Linked DNA regions of Homo sapiens. The protein of the gene in region 1 interacts with the protein of each later gene in a pairwise test. Each region holds a gene or a part of one and is shown in the gene's direction. Other genes may lie near its edges.

What was found. Proteins that work in one complex are often made in the same cells at the same time.
Region 2: the proteins of PDPK1 (region 1) and BLMH interact in a two-hybrid assay, tested with the Homo sapiens proteins (one large-scale study listed by BioGRID and IntAct).
Region 3: the proteins of PDPK1 (region 1) and CDAN1 interact in a two-hybrid assay, tested with the Homo sapiens proteins (one large-scale study listed by IntAct).
Region 4: the proteins of PDPK1 (region 1) and SBF1 interact in a two-hybrid assay, tested with the Homo sapiens proteins (one large-scale study listed by BioGRID and IntAct).

The regions. Positions count from the first base shown.
Region 1 is NC_000016.10:2,555,021-2,558,520, forward strand, and holds part of PDPK1 (3-phosphoinositide-dependent protein kinase 1), read left to right. Parts: intron 1-2,682; coding exon 2,683-2,943; intron 2,944-2,959; exon of another isoform or gene 2,960-3,500. UniProt on the Homo sapiens protein: Serine/threonine kinase which acts as a master kinase, phosphorylating and activating a subgroup of the AGC family of protein kinases.
Region 2 is NC_000017.11:30,260,945-30,264,444, reverse strand, and holds part of BLMH (bleomycin hydrolase), read left to right. Parts: intron 1-3,500. UniProt on the Homo sapiens protein: The normal physiological role of BLM hydrolase is unknown, but it catalyzes the inactivation of the antitumor drug BLM (a glycopeptide) by hydrolyzing the carboxamide bond of its B-aminoalaninamide moiety thus protecting normal and malignant cells from BLM toxicity.
Region 3 is NC_000015.10:42,723,044-42,727,128, reverse strand, and holds the end of CDAN1 (codanin-1), read left to right. Parts: intron 1-711; coding exon 712-819; intron 820-968; coding exon 969-1,032; intron 1,033-1,458; coding exon 1,459-1,640; intron 1,641-1,877; coding exon 1,878-1,985; intron 1,986-2,512; coding exon 2,513-2,638; 3' UTR 2,639-3,585; downstream 3,586-4,085. UniProt on the Homo sapiens protein: May act as a negative regulator of ASF1 in chromatin assembly.
Region 4 is NC_000022.11:50,451,036-50,454,535, reverse strand, and holds part of SBF1 (myotubularin-related protein 5), read left to right. Parts: coding exon 1-24; intron 25-3,500. UniProt on the Homo sapiens protein: Acts as an adapter for the phosphatase MTMR2 to regulate MTMR2 catalytic activity and subcellular location. Promotes the exchange of GDP to GTP, converting inactive GDP-bound Rab proteins into their active GTP-bound form.

The DNA.
Region 1 (3,500 bases):
CATGATTGAAGCTGCTGGCGTGGAAGCTGTGCCATGTCATGTAAAGCATGCAGTGGGAAAGCAGTGGGGTGGGGGCGTCTTTGTATTACATCATCTGTTGTTGCCGTTTCAAAAATCCAGAGGCCTTTCTACACTTCAGTTGGATGTTGATTTCAAAATGACCGATGTTTCTTTCTGACTCATGAAGGCTGCTGTCTTTGGAATCTGACATTAGAGGGAAGCGAAACTTTACAATGTGTGGGGCAGCCTGGTGTGGTGGCTCAGGTCTGTAATCCAGCACTTTGGGAGGCCAAGGATGGCGGATCACTCGAGCCCTGGAGTTTGAGACCAGCCTGGGCAGCATGATGAGACCCCATCTCTACAAAAATTAGCTGGACACGGTGGTGCACACCTGTGGTCCCACTACTCAGGAGGCTGAGGTGGGAGGATCACTTGAGCCTAGGAGGTCGAGACTGCAGTGAGCTATGATCATGCCACTGAACTCCAGCCTGGGAGACAGAGTGAGACCCCGTCTCAAAACAGAAAAAAAGTCACCAGGCATGGTGGCACATGCCTGTAATTGCATCACTTTGGGAAGCTGAGGCAGGCAGATCACTTGAGTTCAGGAGTTCGAAACCAGCCGGGACAACAAGCAAAACCCCATCTCTATTTTTTCAAAATTTGTGTATATAAAATTTTTGTATGAAAGCTGTGTGGTACATGTTTAGCTGTTTTATGTTTCACTTTCTGGACATGAGTGTGATCCTCCCTGCTCTTGCAGTGCCATCTAAGCTGTCATCAGTTTTCCTGGGCGAGTGATGCATCTCCCCAGCTGGTCTGTCTGAGCCCCTGGCCAGCCAAGGGGCTGCCCTTGACTCTCCCGGCACCCGCCCGTCTCTGCATAGCCACCCCCACCACTTTAACTGGATGGTTTTGTATTGAGGTCAGGCTGGACATCAGCTTTCTATGGGCAGGGACCGTGTCCTCTTATTGGCTGAGTAATTGGGTCCATAGCGTAGGTAAGTCACCTCCTTTAAGAGACTTTGATAAGCAAAATAGTGAATATATTCTTTTTATTTATTTACTTATTATTTTTTATTTTTGAGGCAGGATCTCCCTCTGTCGTCCAGGCTGGAGTGCAGTGATGTGATCTTGGCTCATTGCAGCCTCGACCTCCCCGGGCTTAGGTAATCCTCCTACCTCAGCCTCCCAATTAACTGCGACGACAGGCACATGCCACCGTACCTGGTTAATTTTTATATTTTTAGTAGAGGTGAGGTTTTGCTGTGTTTGCCCAGGCTGGTCTTGAACTCATGGGCTGAAGTGATCCACCCACTTTGGCCTCTGCGCCCGGCCTATTTTTTTTTTTTTTTTTTTTTTTTGAGACGAAATTTCACTCTTGTTGCCTAGGCTGGAGTGCAATGGCATGCTATCAGCTCACTGCAACCTCTGCCTTGCAGGTTGAAGCGATTCTCCTGCCTCAGCCTCCCAAGTAGCTGGCATTACAGGCATGCGCCAACAAGCCCGGCTAGTTTTTTTGTATTTTTAGTAGAGACGGGATTTCTCCATGTGGTCAGGCTGGTCTCGAACTCCTGACCTCAGGTGATCCTCCCGCCTCTGCCTCCCAAAGTGCTGGGATTACAGGCCTGAGCCACTGTGCCCGGCCTAATTTTGTATTTTTAGTAGAGAAGGGGTTTATTCGTGTTGGTCAGGCTGATCTTGAACTCCCGACCGCAGGGGATCCACCCGCCTCATCCACCCAAACTGCTGGGACTACAGGCATGAGCCACCAAGCCCGGCCGTTTTTAGCGTTTAAAAGGATTGCAGCTTGGCTGGTGGCAGTCCCTCTGTCCTGGCACAGACGCAGGGGGAGACCCTGTGTCTTCAGACAGCATGGACTTCAGGACCCTACTGAGAGATGGAATCAAGAGCTCTCCGGGGTTCTTTGAGTGGGGAGTTGTATCGGAAACCACCATCAGCGCGCCTGAGCTCGCCTCGCATTGTTCTTCTGTAGTGCGGGGGGCCACTGCCACCACCGTGAGGACACGTTGGGGTCTGGGGAGGGATTGTTATGGCTGTGGGTGCACCTTGCACGTCTTGCCGACCTAGCTTTGCACGCTGATCTTCCCTCCGTGCCCGCTTACATTGTTAACTGGGTTTCTGCCCTCCCTCCTCTCCTTCGTATTTCTGTGTCTCATTGACAACTGTTCTGTAGTCGCTTTGTTGACAGTTGCCAAACTGCTTTCCAAAAACATTTCCACTGCAATCCCGGTTTTTGGTGCCAGCCGCAGTGGTGTGAGTGCGCTCGCTTTATTATAGTCTTGCCAGCACTGGGCGTCTCTGTGTATTGTAAACACATGCGATCATCACTCTTATCTCTCCATCCCCCCCACAATTAAAGATGTGCCGTGCTATCTCTGCTCAGGTTACCTTGGCCTTGGGATGAGTTGGCTGGAGGCTCAGGCAGCGCGAGGGACAGGAGGAGGGCGAGGCGCTGCCTGGTGGATTAGCGGGGAGCCATGGCACGGGCAGGACTCAGGAGAGGAGGCCGGCAGCTCACAGCAGACCGCGGGGCTCAGCTGGCCTGCCCTGTGCTTGGGGTTTGTTTTTGAGCGTTGAAATGAGGTCCTTAAACCTTAGTCCGTGCATTGAGAGCAAGGCAGCTGCCTTGAGCCTTACTTCCTTTTCCTCTTTGTCGCCTAGTATGACGCCGTGCCCATCCAGTCCAGCGTGGTGTTATGTTCCTGCCCATCCCCATCAATGGTGAGGACCCAGACTGAGTCCAGCACGCCCCCTGGCATTCCTGGTGGCAGCAGGCAGGGCCCCGCCATGGACGGCACTGCAGCCGAGCCTCGGCCCGGCGCCGGCTCCCTGCAGCATGCCCAGCCTCCGCCGCAGCCTCGGAAGAAGCGGCCTGAGGACTTCAAGTTTGGGAAAATCCTTGGGGAAGGCTCTTTTTCCACGGTGAGTATTTGCTGCTGCTGTGTGTCAAACGTACGTGATTTCCTTGGGGAGGCTCACCTTCCTCGGGGCTTGCCGGAGACTCCAAGCAAGGCTGGTGTCCTTCCAGGCAGGAGGTCTCAGGCCCCTTGAGGGGTGTCACCTGTTGTGAAGGCCACTTGAGTCTTTGGGGGCTGGGTACCCCCCAAGCAGATGACGTGATGAGTGTGGCTAAATATTTAACCTGGTTTTGTAGATGAGAACGTTAGACACATCTCTTGATGGTCTGCGGAGGTTTTTTCTGATGTAGTTAATTTCATTTTAACCTGGCATCAGCAAGTTACATTCTGTGTCCTTGTGTCTCACTGGCAGGGCCCTGGGAAGCTGTTCTTTTTCTTAGATTGAAAGTTAGTATCTCTCCAGGGTTTTTGGGGACATTTATTGACCTCTTCTTATTTCTCTGTTTTGTTTTTTTGAATACATAAAACAGTACGCTCTGGACATTTGCTGGAGACACAGCCTCCAGAGTCTTGTGTTCCGAGTTTCACAAACAGGAGTATTGTCGCAGTACTGTCAAGTCA
Region 2 (3,500 bases), on another chromosome or scaffold:
TTTACTTTTACTCAATAAAAGTTTTGCTTTTGCTAACTTACTCATTTCATTATTATGCTTAGAGAACTGTAAAATATGGGATCTTGCTATCCCTGTAACTCTCCTGTAATCCTTCTTAGTGAAATCTGCAGCTATCTAGTAAAGATTAACTTTTTTGTTGTTCTCAAATAACTGAAATGCCTGTGACTATACACAGCAAAGCATTTCAGTAGAGAGCCAAAAGATAAGAAATAGAACTGAAGTGGGGGTAGGGAGTCGTTCATTCAAGCCAAAATAAATTATTCTCATGTGTTTCTTGGTAATGTTCTTTCTAACTTAACAGGAAGGAAGGAAAGAAAACATGATCTAATTTAATTGGCACACTTGGCCTGACCTCAGGAGAGCGCATAGTATGTTATTATGTTGGCAATATGTGTTTATCCCAGCAGGGCCTTCTTGTCTGTCATCCTAGTGGACATTGGCTGGCAGGTCTGAGGTAGGACCTCTGTTTATGCTCTCTTGGGAGATATGACAACCTTAAGAAGCATTGCTGGGATTTTGTTTCTGTAGATAACATTGTTAACAGTTTGTTGCTATTCTCTTTGGGATTTCTGACTGTTAAGATTGATGTTTCTGAAAAAGCAGTGTTGATAATACATGCTGGAGATAAACAGAGCAAAGATACCTGGGCAAGCTGCCTTTCCCCTTTGCCCAGCCCTGGCTTTGGTTCTCCCCATTGGTCATGTTCATGGCTCTCCTGCCCAGAAACTCTTTTGTAACACATAACCTGACTATTCCAAAAATGGACAGAAGGTTTCTTCTGAGCAGGAGGACATAAAAGGAGAAATCAGTTTTTGCTTTACTGTACCAGTTGGATTACTTCAAGTTGATGAATTCTAGTATTCATAGTCAGTTGTACTGAAAATTGGATGCATATCTAACATGTAATACCAACCTGGGTTTCTTTTCTCCCCTGCTTCTTAAAATACTTGACTATCCATTTTGTACCTTGTTAATGGATCATATCAGAAATGAATTTCACAATTAGGTGAGGGAACAGACTTCGGGATTTGATATATTATCTTTCATTTTGAAAAGTTGATAAAAATATTTTATAAAATATTTAAGAATTTAAAATCAAGGAAGTCACCTTTGATTCCTCTCGTTATTAGTCAGAAATTCATCTGAGAAGAGCCTAATCTCTAAGCCAAAGTGACCTGCAGATCCCCTAGCTAGTAAATGATAGAGCCAGAATTATAACCCAGATGGCCTGACACCAGAGCCAGTTTTCTTAACCACTAAACTGTGCTTTCTCTCACCTTCCCTGTTCTAGTAGCATGTCGTCCACTCAAGAAATAACAGGTCAGTTCATGGTCATTGGTGACCAGAAAGAGTGGATGAAGGGATATAAAACTGTATGAAGGACCTGGAGATGTTATGTAAATGTCTGACATTGGGAGAAAAGGCCCCTAGAGCATCATTTGTGGCTGGGAATCTGAGTAAAGAGTGGAGATTGGGGCATTCTGTGAGGGTTTGTCACATGTTAGCACATTGTGACTTAGGCAAGTCAGAAACTATGCAGCCACCCAAAATTTCCCTGAATTTTGTCCATGCTGCTTTATAATAAGGTTATTTAGTTGTTTTTTTGTTTTGTTTTGTTTTTGCTTTTTTGAGACGGAGTCTTGCTCTGTTGCCCAGGCTGGAGTGCGGTGGCGCGATCTCAGCTCACTGCAAGCTTCGCCTCCCAGGTTCACGCCATTCTCCTGCCTCAGCCTCCCAAGTAGCTGGGACTACAGGTGCTCCCCACCACGCCTGGCTAATTTTTTGTATTTTTTAGTAGAGACAGAGTTTCACTGTGTTAGCCAGGATGGTCTCGATCTCCTGACCTTGTGATCCTCCCACCTCGGCCTCCCAAAGTGCTGGGTTACAGGCGTGAGCCACCGTGCCCGGCCAAGGTTATTTAGTTCTTAACTTTTTATCTTGGACAATTTTAAACATATATAAAGTAAACAGGATTGTATTAAAGAACCCTGCATATGCCTGTCACCCACCTTCAGTAGTTATCAATATTCTGTCATGCAAATAATAGTGTATTTGATAGTCAATAAATTAAATTCCTAGATGGTCTTTCTAATGAACCAGTCTTACTATGAAACTTTACTTCTTTGTGATTGGTTCACTTAGTTATGAGATTGTATTCCATTTCTAGAGCCTGACACAGCAGAACTCTAAATGTGGAATTATCATAATATAGTTCTTAATGCTTATTTGGTCCAGTTTCTCAATATGATAAGTAACAACTTTTAAGTGAAGATATGGAGGATATTTTCTAATTCTGCAATGTTCACTGAAGGAAAATACTTACCTTTTAAAAATTTTGTCTCTCCTGGTTTTCATTTTGAACCAAGATGAGTTTTCCATTTTTCACATTGCTTTTGTTCCTTTCAGATACATGAACATTTGAAATTGTTTTTAACCCACATTTTTAATCTTTTCTTACAAGTGAGCCTCTCTGTTCCTGATTTCTTTCATTTTAGTAAAATTTTCAGACTTCCTTCTAGAAAGGAGCCTCTAAATGGTTTCAGTTAAAGATACTTTGGCATGTTAGAGATTAGAAAGAAACATGTTATCAATTCAGACTATATGTAGATTTCTGCTGCTTCCTAAAAACCAACATTATGACCTTTAATTGTCTCACCAGCCCAACTGCCACAAGTGATTTTGGAGATGGTATATTCAAAGCTAGGCACAAAAATCAACATATTCTTCATAAAATGCTATGTTGTAGAACCAGGTGAGTTGTGGAGAGACAGTTACTAATAATTAATTCTTGATTTTAGATGCTGGGCAGTAATTTAACTCATTGTAGTGTCACATTTCTATGTCAATAACATGGACAATTTGTTTCTTTATGAGCTCCTACAGTTTGTATGTAGCCATCAAATGAAATAATGTATGCAGGCATTTTTCAAACTGTATATTGTTATATAAATCTAAGGAGTTATGAACAGCCCATATTTCTGTTGGAGGTACTCAGGACATAAAGCTACAGGGCATCTTGCTTCGTGAGAATTCAAAGTTCACTAATGTATTTGTATTTATTTCTCCTCATGACATCAGAGTAGAGTAACTCAGGATGTGAACATGGGTGATTATACCCAGGTTTTATGTGAAGAAACTAAAACTTACTGACAGTTGTGTCTTGTTTGGGTTGCACAGAATCAGAGATAGAATTGGAATTCAAATCTCTTAATTTGACACAGACAGCTTCCCTAAAATTCCCTATGTATTACTTACAAAAGACAATCAGTTATTTGCAGGTCTGTTTGAGGTTCAGTTCTGGATCTCTAGTACAATAATGGAAACTAGGCAATGTTGGGCCAGACTTGCTGAAACAAGAGTGAATTGTAGAACTTAAAAGCACAGGTTTCTGATTTCCGAGAAAGGGGCAAGTTGCAAATTTGTTTTGTCACCTCAGAGGGTTTCATGTCTCTCCAGGCTTGGGAAAAGTGCTGCTACCA
Region 3 (4,085 bases), on another chromosome or scaffold:
CCCCTTGTTTTGTGAGTGAAGTTTTAGTGGAATGCAGCCATATTAATTTGTGTACGAGCTGCCTATGGCTGCTTTTGTGCAACTACTGAACAGCAGAGTTGCATAGTTGGGACACAGACTTTATGGCCTGCAAAGCCTAAAATATTTACTGTCTGGTTCTGGTCTAGGGTAATGATCTAGGAATAGAGATTGGAATAGGGACTATAAGGTACAATGACTAAAAAATGGAGATTATGTAGGAGGGAGAGGAAGAGGCTTAGTGGCCATTTGATACTGGTTGTCAATATGCAGAGGATTTCTGTATTGAAAGCTCAGCTCTCCAGAGAAGATGAACAGAGAGGCTTGAGAGACAGACGATACTAAGACGGTATCTGATAGGCCGGTTTCCTTACATGCTTCAAGAATAAGATGCCCTATGGGAGTTGGTTAGCTACAGTTTGGTCCCAAGTTGAGTGACGTTTCCCATGCTATGGCAGCCTACTGTCCCTCAGCTGACCTCCATCTGTTCCCTCTTTTGTTGTCCACATGGTTGCTTCCCCTGGCTGTATTATCCTGCCCAAGTCCCAGGTCTAGGGGCAACTTGGCTTTACTCACCATATCCCGGGGCCCATTCTTCTGCCTCTCTCCACTGGCTGATCCCTGTCCCAAGCCAAATTCTCTGTGGCATCCTGGCCCCCAGCGCAAGGTGATATCTCCCCCTGCTCTTCACAGGACGTGCTCTCCTTGGCCGTGGGGCCACGGGACCCTGACGAGGGAGTCTCCCCAGAGCATCTGGAACAGCTCCTAGGCCAGCTGGGCCAGACGCTGCGGTGCCGCCAGGTGAGCTGTGGCATCTGCCACCGGGGGGCTTTTTTCTGTGTCCTTGTGTGAGACCTGATAACCAGAGCCACACTGGCTCAGGGCCAGTTCTCGCAGCAGTAAGCATGGTGATACCTATGGTCTCTCTTTCCCCCCCACCCCAACCGCAGTTCCTGTGCCCACCTGCTGAGCAGCATCTGGCAAAGTGCTCTGTGGAGTTAGCTTCCCTCCTCGGTATGGTTGCTTTCCATCAAATCCCTCTCTTGCCTGATCCCCCAAATCTCAGGGTTGGGTACAAGCAAGATTAGAAACAGAGCCCTCTTCTGTCCCTTTTTTTTTTTTTTTTTTTTTTTTTGAGACGGAATCTTGTTCTGTTGCCCAGGCTGGAGTGCAGTGGCACGATCTTAGCTAACTGCAACCTCTGCCTCCCGGGTTCAAGCAATTCTGCCTCGGCCAAGTAGCTGGGACTACAGGTGCCTTCCACCACGCCTGGCTAATTTTGGTATTTTTAATAGAGATGGGGTTTCACTATGTTGGCCAGACTGGTCTCGAACCCCTGATCTGCCCACCTCAGCCTCCCGAAGTGTTGGGATTATAGGTGTGAGTCACCGCACCCGGCCTGCCCCCATCTTTTAAAGCTTGGCTTTCCTCTTTCCACAGTTGCAGATCAAATTCCTATCCTAGGGCCCCCGGCACAGTACAGGCTGGAGAGAGGGCAGGCTCGAAGGCTTCTGCACATGCTGCTTTCCTTGTGGAAGGAAGACTTTCAGGGGCCGGTTCCGCTGCAGCTGCTGCTGAGCCCAAGAAATGTGGGGCTTCTGGCAGACACAAGGCCAAGGGAGGTGAGTCAGACGGAACAAGAAGCCCTCTGCAGTCACACTCTGAACATCCACCACCCTTGCCCCAAACTATGAGCTGCTCTGCATCCTTTATTTCCCCTTCCTGTTCCACACAGAAATGGGCTCCATTTATCCATCTCAAGTCTCTTCCCAGCAGCTCTGCCCTTTGAGATCTCAATCTCTGTCATCAGGGTCACTCTGTCGTCCTCCTAGCAACCCTGACCTCGGTGTGTTTTGCAGTGGGACTTGCTGCTATTCTTGCTACGGGAGCTGGTGGAGAAGGGTCTGATGGGACGGATGGAGATAGAGGCCTGCCTGGGCAGCCTCCACCAGGCCCAGTGGCCAGGGGTAAGGAGTCTCCTGTCTTTTAGGTGGAGAGAGAACAGGTGTTACATATCCCATCTGTCCTGAAAGGAAGCAAGTGATGGGGCCAAACTAAGTGGATTTTTGTCAAGAGTCTTCAGGGCCACCCTGAAATTGTCCCGATTTGAGTAGTTATTATATGAGGGACTGTGTTAGTGGGAAGACGGACGAAAGGCAGGCAGTTAGTTGGAAAGCAGCACAGCCCATTATATGGGTTTTTAAAATTAGAATAACCTGGATTTTAACGGGAATAATAATTTCAAGATGAAGTAGATGCACTCAGTAGTACTCAAAAACTGGTCAAGCCTGTGCCTCCATCAGAGTTCGCTCCCTGCCATAACTTCAGCCTCCCAGAGTACTAACAAACAGACAAGGTTTCATGTCCATTTCAGTGTGGAGGGCAGTTGAGAAAAAATAATATAGCCAGCCAGGTTGTGGTCTTTAGTGACAAAGGATGAGCCATTGAGAATTATTACATGCTGCCTTTTCCCTCATCTTTCTATGTATTCCAGGACTTTGCTGAAGAATTAGCAACACTGTCTAATCTGTTTCTAGCCGAGCCCCACCTGCCAGAACCCCAGCTAAGAGCCTGTGAGTTGGTGCAGCCAAACCGGGGCACTGTGCTGGCCCAGAGCTAGGGCTGAGAAGTGGCCCTGCCTTGGGCATTGCACCAGAACCCTGGACCCCCGCCTCACGAGGAGGCCCAAGTGCCCAATGCAGACCCTCACTGGTTGGGGTGTAGCTGGGTCTACAGTCAGACTTCCTGCTCTAAGGGTGTCACTGCCTGGCATCCCACCACGCGAATCCTAGAGGAAGGAGAGTTGGCCTGATTTGGGATTATGGCAGAAAAGTCCAGAGATGCCAGTCCTGGAGTAGAAGAGGTGGTGTTTGTTTATCTCTTGGATACTAAATGAAATGAGGTGTGTGGGCTTGTCAACACAGAATTCAAGCCTCATTTGCTATCCCAGCATCTCTTAAAACTTTGTAGTCTTGGAATTCATGACAGAGGCAAATGACTCCTGCTTAACTTATGAAGAAAGTTAAAACATGAATCTTGGGAGTCTACATTTTCTTATCACCAGGAGCTGGACTGCCATCTCCTTATAAATGCCTAACACAGGCCGGGTCTGGTGGCTCATGCCTGTAATCCCAGCACTTTGAGAGGCCTGAGGTCGGCGGACTGCCTGAGGTCAGGAATTCAAGACCAGCCTGGCCAACATGGCAAAACCCCATCTCTACTAAAAATAAAAAAATTATTAGCTGGGCATGGTGGTGTGTGCCTGTAATCCCAGCTACTCAGGAGGATGAGGCAGGAGACCTGCTTGAACCTGGAGGTGGAGGTTGCAGTGAGCCGAGGTCGCACCACTGCACTCCAGTCTGGGTAACAGAGCGAGACTTTCTAGAAAAAGCCTAACAAACAGATAAGGTAGGACTCAACCAACTGAAACCTGACTTTCCCCCTGTACCTTCAGCCCCTGTGCAGGTAGTAACCTCTTGAGACCTCTCCCTGACCAGGGACCAAGCACAGGGCATTTAGAGCTTTTTAGAATAAACTGGTTTTCTTTAACAAGGGCTTGATGTCTAATCATTGTCACCTGTCTTCTCCCTTTAGAAGGCTGCAGTCTCGGGTGGGCTGTAGGTGGAGCGCTGTAATTGTGGCTTTGCTCTGTGCATTACAAGGTGAGCTACCTTGGCTCTTAGAAATGCCTGTATATTCCACTCTAGAGGGCTAGTCTCTGGTGGCAATATCTATTAATTTAATTTATCGCCAGTGGTACTGACTTCTCCTGTGTAACTCGCTTTATTTGTGGGAGAAAGGGTTAGGATAATGTAGTTTCCACACACAAGATATTCCCTACTGAACCACATGGTGGGGCAGTGTTCTTGTTAAGCTTGTTAAGGCTAAGGTGTTTGTTTGATTGATTTGGCTTGGAGTTTCTCAGAGCAAAAGCATTGCTTCTCGATTACAGCTGTATCAAGCTCTATAAATGAGCCACTGATTTTGACAGGTTCACACCTGTAATCCCAGTGCTTTGGGAAGCCGAGAGAGAGGACTACTTGAGTCCAGGAGTTAGAGGTTACAGT
Region 4 (3,500 bases), on another chromosome or scaffold:
GACGCCATCTCACGCCTGCTGGAGGTGCGTGTGATCCCAGAGCAGGGTCTGGCCTGGCACCCCCCTCCTCTCGCTCAGACACCAGGGTCGTGCGTGTGTGTGTACACTCGTACATGCACGTAAGTCCGGTTACCCCTGGGGGTTGGTGTGGCCCTGCCGTCTCCCCACCATGTGAACTGCCTACTGGCCTGGGGTGGCTGTGGCTCCCCAGGGCCCCGCACCACTCAGTGGGTGCTTCCAGACAGTGACAGGAGGGCCGTCATCAGAGACCCTCAGGTCTCAGTACACAGCCTCCACTCTGAGCACGTGTGTTTTCCCTGACCTGGCTTTGAGCAGCTCAGGCACCTGTTGAGGAGTCAGCCCTTAGAGACGACAGTGTTTTACTCCCTCTGCCAGACCGCCTGCCCCACCTAACGTGAGCAGCTCTGGGTTCTTGCCCTGAGAGCTTGGGGTTGACATTGAGGCCTCTCTTACCCCTCACTGTGCCATCCCTGGTGGGCCTGGACTGAACAAGGCAGAGATGCCTGGGAGGGAGAAAGGAGACTGCGATTGGGTGGTGGCTGGGTTGGTGTGTAAGGCCTGAGGCAGTGTCCTGCGCGTGGTGCTACCTTTTGGGGCCATCCCGGAGTCTCTGTGGGACTGAGCAGGCAGAGGAGTGTGGACCTTGGACCTAGGCCACGGGGGGACCTGCACTCAGCTCCCCACTGTTGGCTGTGTGGCCTTAGAGGTTATCTTTTTTTTTTTATTTTGAGATGGAGTCTCGCTCTGTCGCCCAGGCTGGAGTGTAGTGGCGCGATCTCCGCTCACTGCAAGCTCCGTCTCCCGGGTTCACACCATTCTCCTGCCTCAGCCTCTCGAGTAGCTGGGACTACAGGTGCCCACCACCACGCCCAGCTAATTTTTTGTATTTTTAGTGGAGACGGGGTTTTACCGTGTTAGCCAGGATGGTCTCGATCTCCTGACCTCGTGATCCACCTGCCTCGGCCTCCCAAAGTGCTGGGATTACAGGCGTGAGCCACCGTGCCTGGCCTAGTTATCTAAGCATCTTAGAGCTTCTGGTTCCTTGTGCAGAAAGTGGAAATGCTGATTCCTGCCTTACAGGGAAGTTGTGAGGCTTAAATGAGTCATTTATTTCAGTGACTTAGCATGGGGCACAGGGTTTGGGGGAGTACGGGAGTCATGGTTTGTGATGGAGGTGACCCACAAAGCACAGACAGCAGTCCCTTTTTCTCTCTAGCGATGCTCATTGTCTTAAAGTTGACGCGGTCTCATTGGTGCTAACAGAGTCACTCAGCTTTGTCATGACCAGTGTCAGCTTGCTCTGTTGTTTTCTTGTATTTTTTACTGGTCTGTGTGTTTATGTTTAAGGTGAGTTTCTTGTACACAGAATGTAGATGTAGTTGGGTCTTCTTGTTATCCAGTCTAATGGGTTTTTTTAATTGGAATTTTTAGCCCATTTTAATTTACTGTTACTATTGATGTGGCTGGGTTTAAGTCTGTCATCTTGCTCTTTGTTTTCTCTTTGTCCCTTTGATTTTTTTTCCTTTCTTTCTTTTCTTTTTTTAAAAAACAAGTGTTTTTAGTATTCTGTCTACTGTGAGTTGAGCTGTACATCTCTGTGTTGTGTTTCAGGGGTTGCTGGGGGCTATAATCATCTGACTTGAAATTACATCACCCTGTTGACACCAGAAGAGCCTTACGGCAGTGTGTGTCCATTCATGCCTTTCCTGTCCTGTTACTGTCACACATTTTATTTTTACGTATGACATAAACACCCAGTATGGTTTTTTTTTTTTTTTTTTTTTTTTTTTTGAGAGATGGAGTCTCCCTCAGTCACCCAGGCTGGAGAGCGGTGGTGCGATCTCGGTTCACTGCAACCTCTGCCTCTGAGTTCAGGTGATTCTCCTGTCTCAGCCTCCCAAGTAGCTGGGATTAGAGGCACCCACCATCATGCCCGGCTAAATTTTTTTTGTATTTTTAGTAGAGACGGGGTTTCACTGTGTTGGCCAGGCTAGTCTCAAACTCCTGACCTCAGGTGATCCGCCCGCCTTGGCCTTGCAAAGTGCTGGGATTACAGGCGTGAGCCACCGTGCCCGGCCCTGTTTTTGTTTTAAATAGTCAACTTTGTTTTAAGGAAATTAAGAAAGAAGGAAAAAGTCTTCTATTTTTGCCATTTATAACATTCTTCATTCTTTCAGTATAATCTGGTCTGGTTATTATTTCTCTTCAGCCTGAAGAATTTTTAATATTTCTTGTAATGCAGAGCTGCCAGTCACAAATCCCCTCAGCTTTTGTTTATCTGAAAACATCTTGGTGCCTTTATTTTGCAAAGGGCATTTTCTCTGGATATGCATTTCTAGGTTGACAGCTGCTTCTTTTTTTTTTTTTTTTTTTTAATTCAGCAGTTAAACTGATGTCACTTTAAAAGATCTCATTACTAGGCTGGGCGCAGCGGCTCACGCCTGTCATCCCAGCACTTTGGGAGGCTGAGGCAGGTGGATAACCTGAGGTCAGGAGTTCGAGACCAGCCTGGCAAATATGGTGAAACCCCGTCTCTACTAAAATATAAAAATGAGCTGAGCATGGTGGCGGGTGCCTGTAATCCCAGCTACTCAGGAGGCTGAGGCAGGAGAATCGCTTCAACCCGGGAGGTGGAGGCTGCACTGAGCTGAGATCGCGCCACTGCACTGCAGCCTGGGCGACATGAGTGAGACTCTGCCTCAAAAAAAAAAAAAAAAAAGATATTACTTTGTTTTCTGGCCTGTATTGTTTCTGCTTAGAAGTTGGTGTTGATTCTTATCCTTATAAACTGTGTATAATGGCACCCTTTGATTCTCTGCCTTAAGATTTTGCATTTAATTTTGGCTTCAGCAATTTGACCATTGTGGTTTTTGCTTTCGTCCTGCTTGGGGCTCTTTAAACTTCTGGGTCTGTGGGATGATCATTTTTGTCAAATTTAATACATTTCAAGCCATTGCTTCTATAAATTACTTTTTCTGCATGATCTCTCCCTTTCCTTCTGGAACTTTATTGTCCCATACGTTGCTGAAGCTCTGTTTGTTTTTTCTCAGTCTTTATCTTTGCAATTCATTTTGGATGATTTCTGTTGGCTTGTCTTCAAGTTCACTACTCTTTTCTTTCTTGTTTTTAATATACTGAAGCCCATCAAATGAATTTTTTTTTAATTTCTTGAGACAGGGTCTTGCTCTGTTGCCCAGGCTGGAGTGCAGTGGCACAGTCATGGCTCACTGCAGCCCGAACCTCCCAGGCTCAAACAATCATCCTGCTTCATTCAGCCTCTTGAGTTGCCAAGACTACTGGCGTGGGCCACGTGCCGGCTACTTTTTTTTTTTTTTTTTTTTTTTTTTTGTAGAGATGGGGTCTCCCTATGTCACCCAGGCAGGTCTCAAACTCCTGGGCTCAAGCAGTCCTCTCACCTTGGCCTCCTAAAGTGCTGGGATTACAGGCATGAGCCACCACACCCGGCCCCATCTAATGAA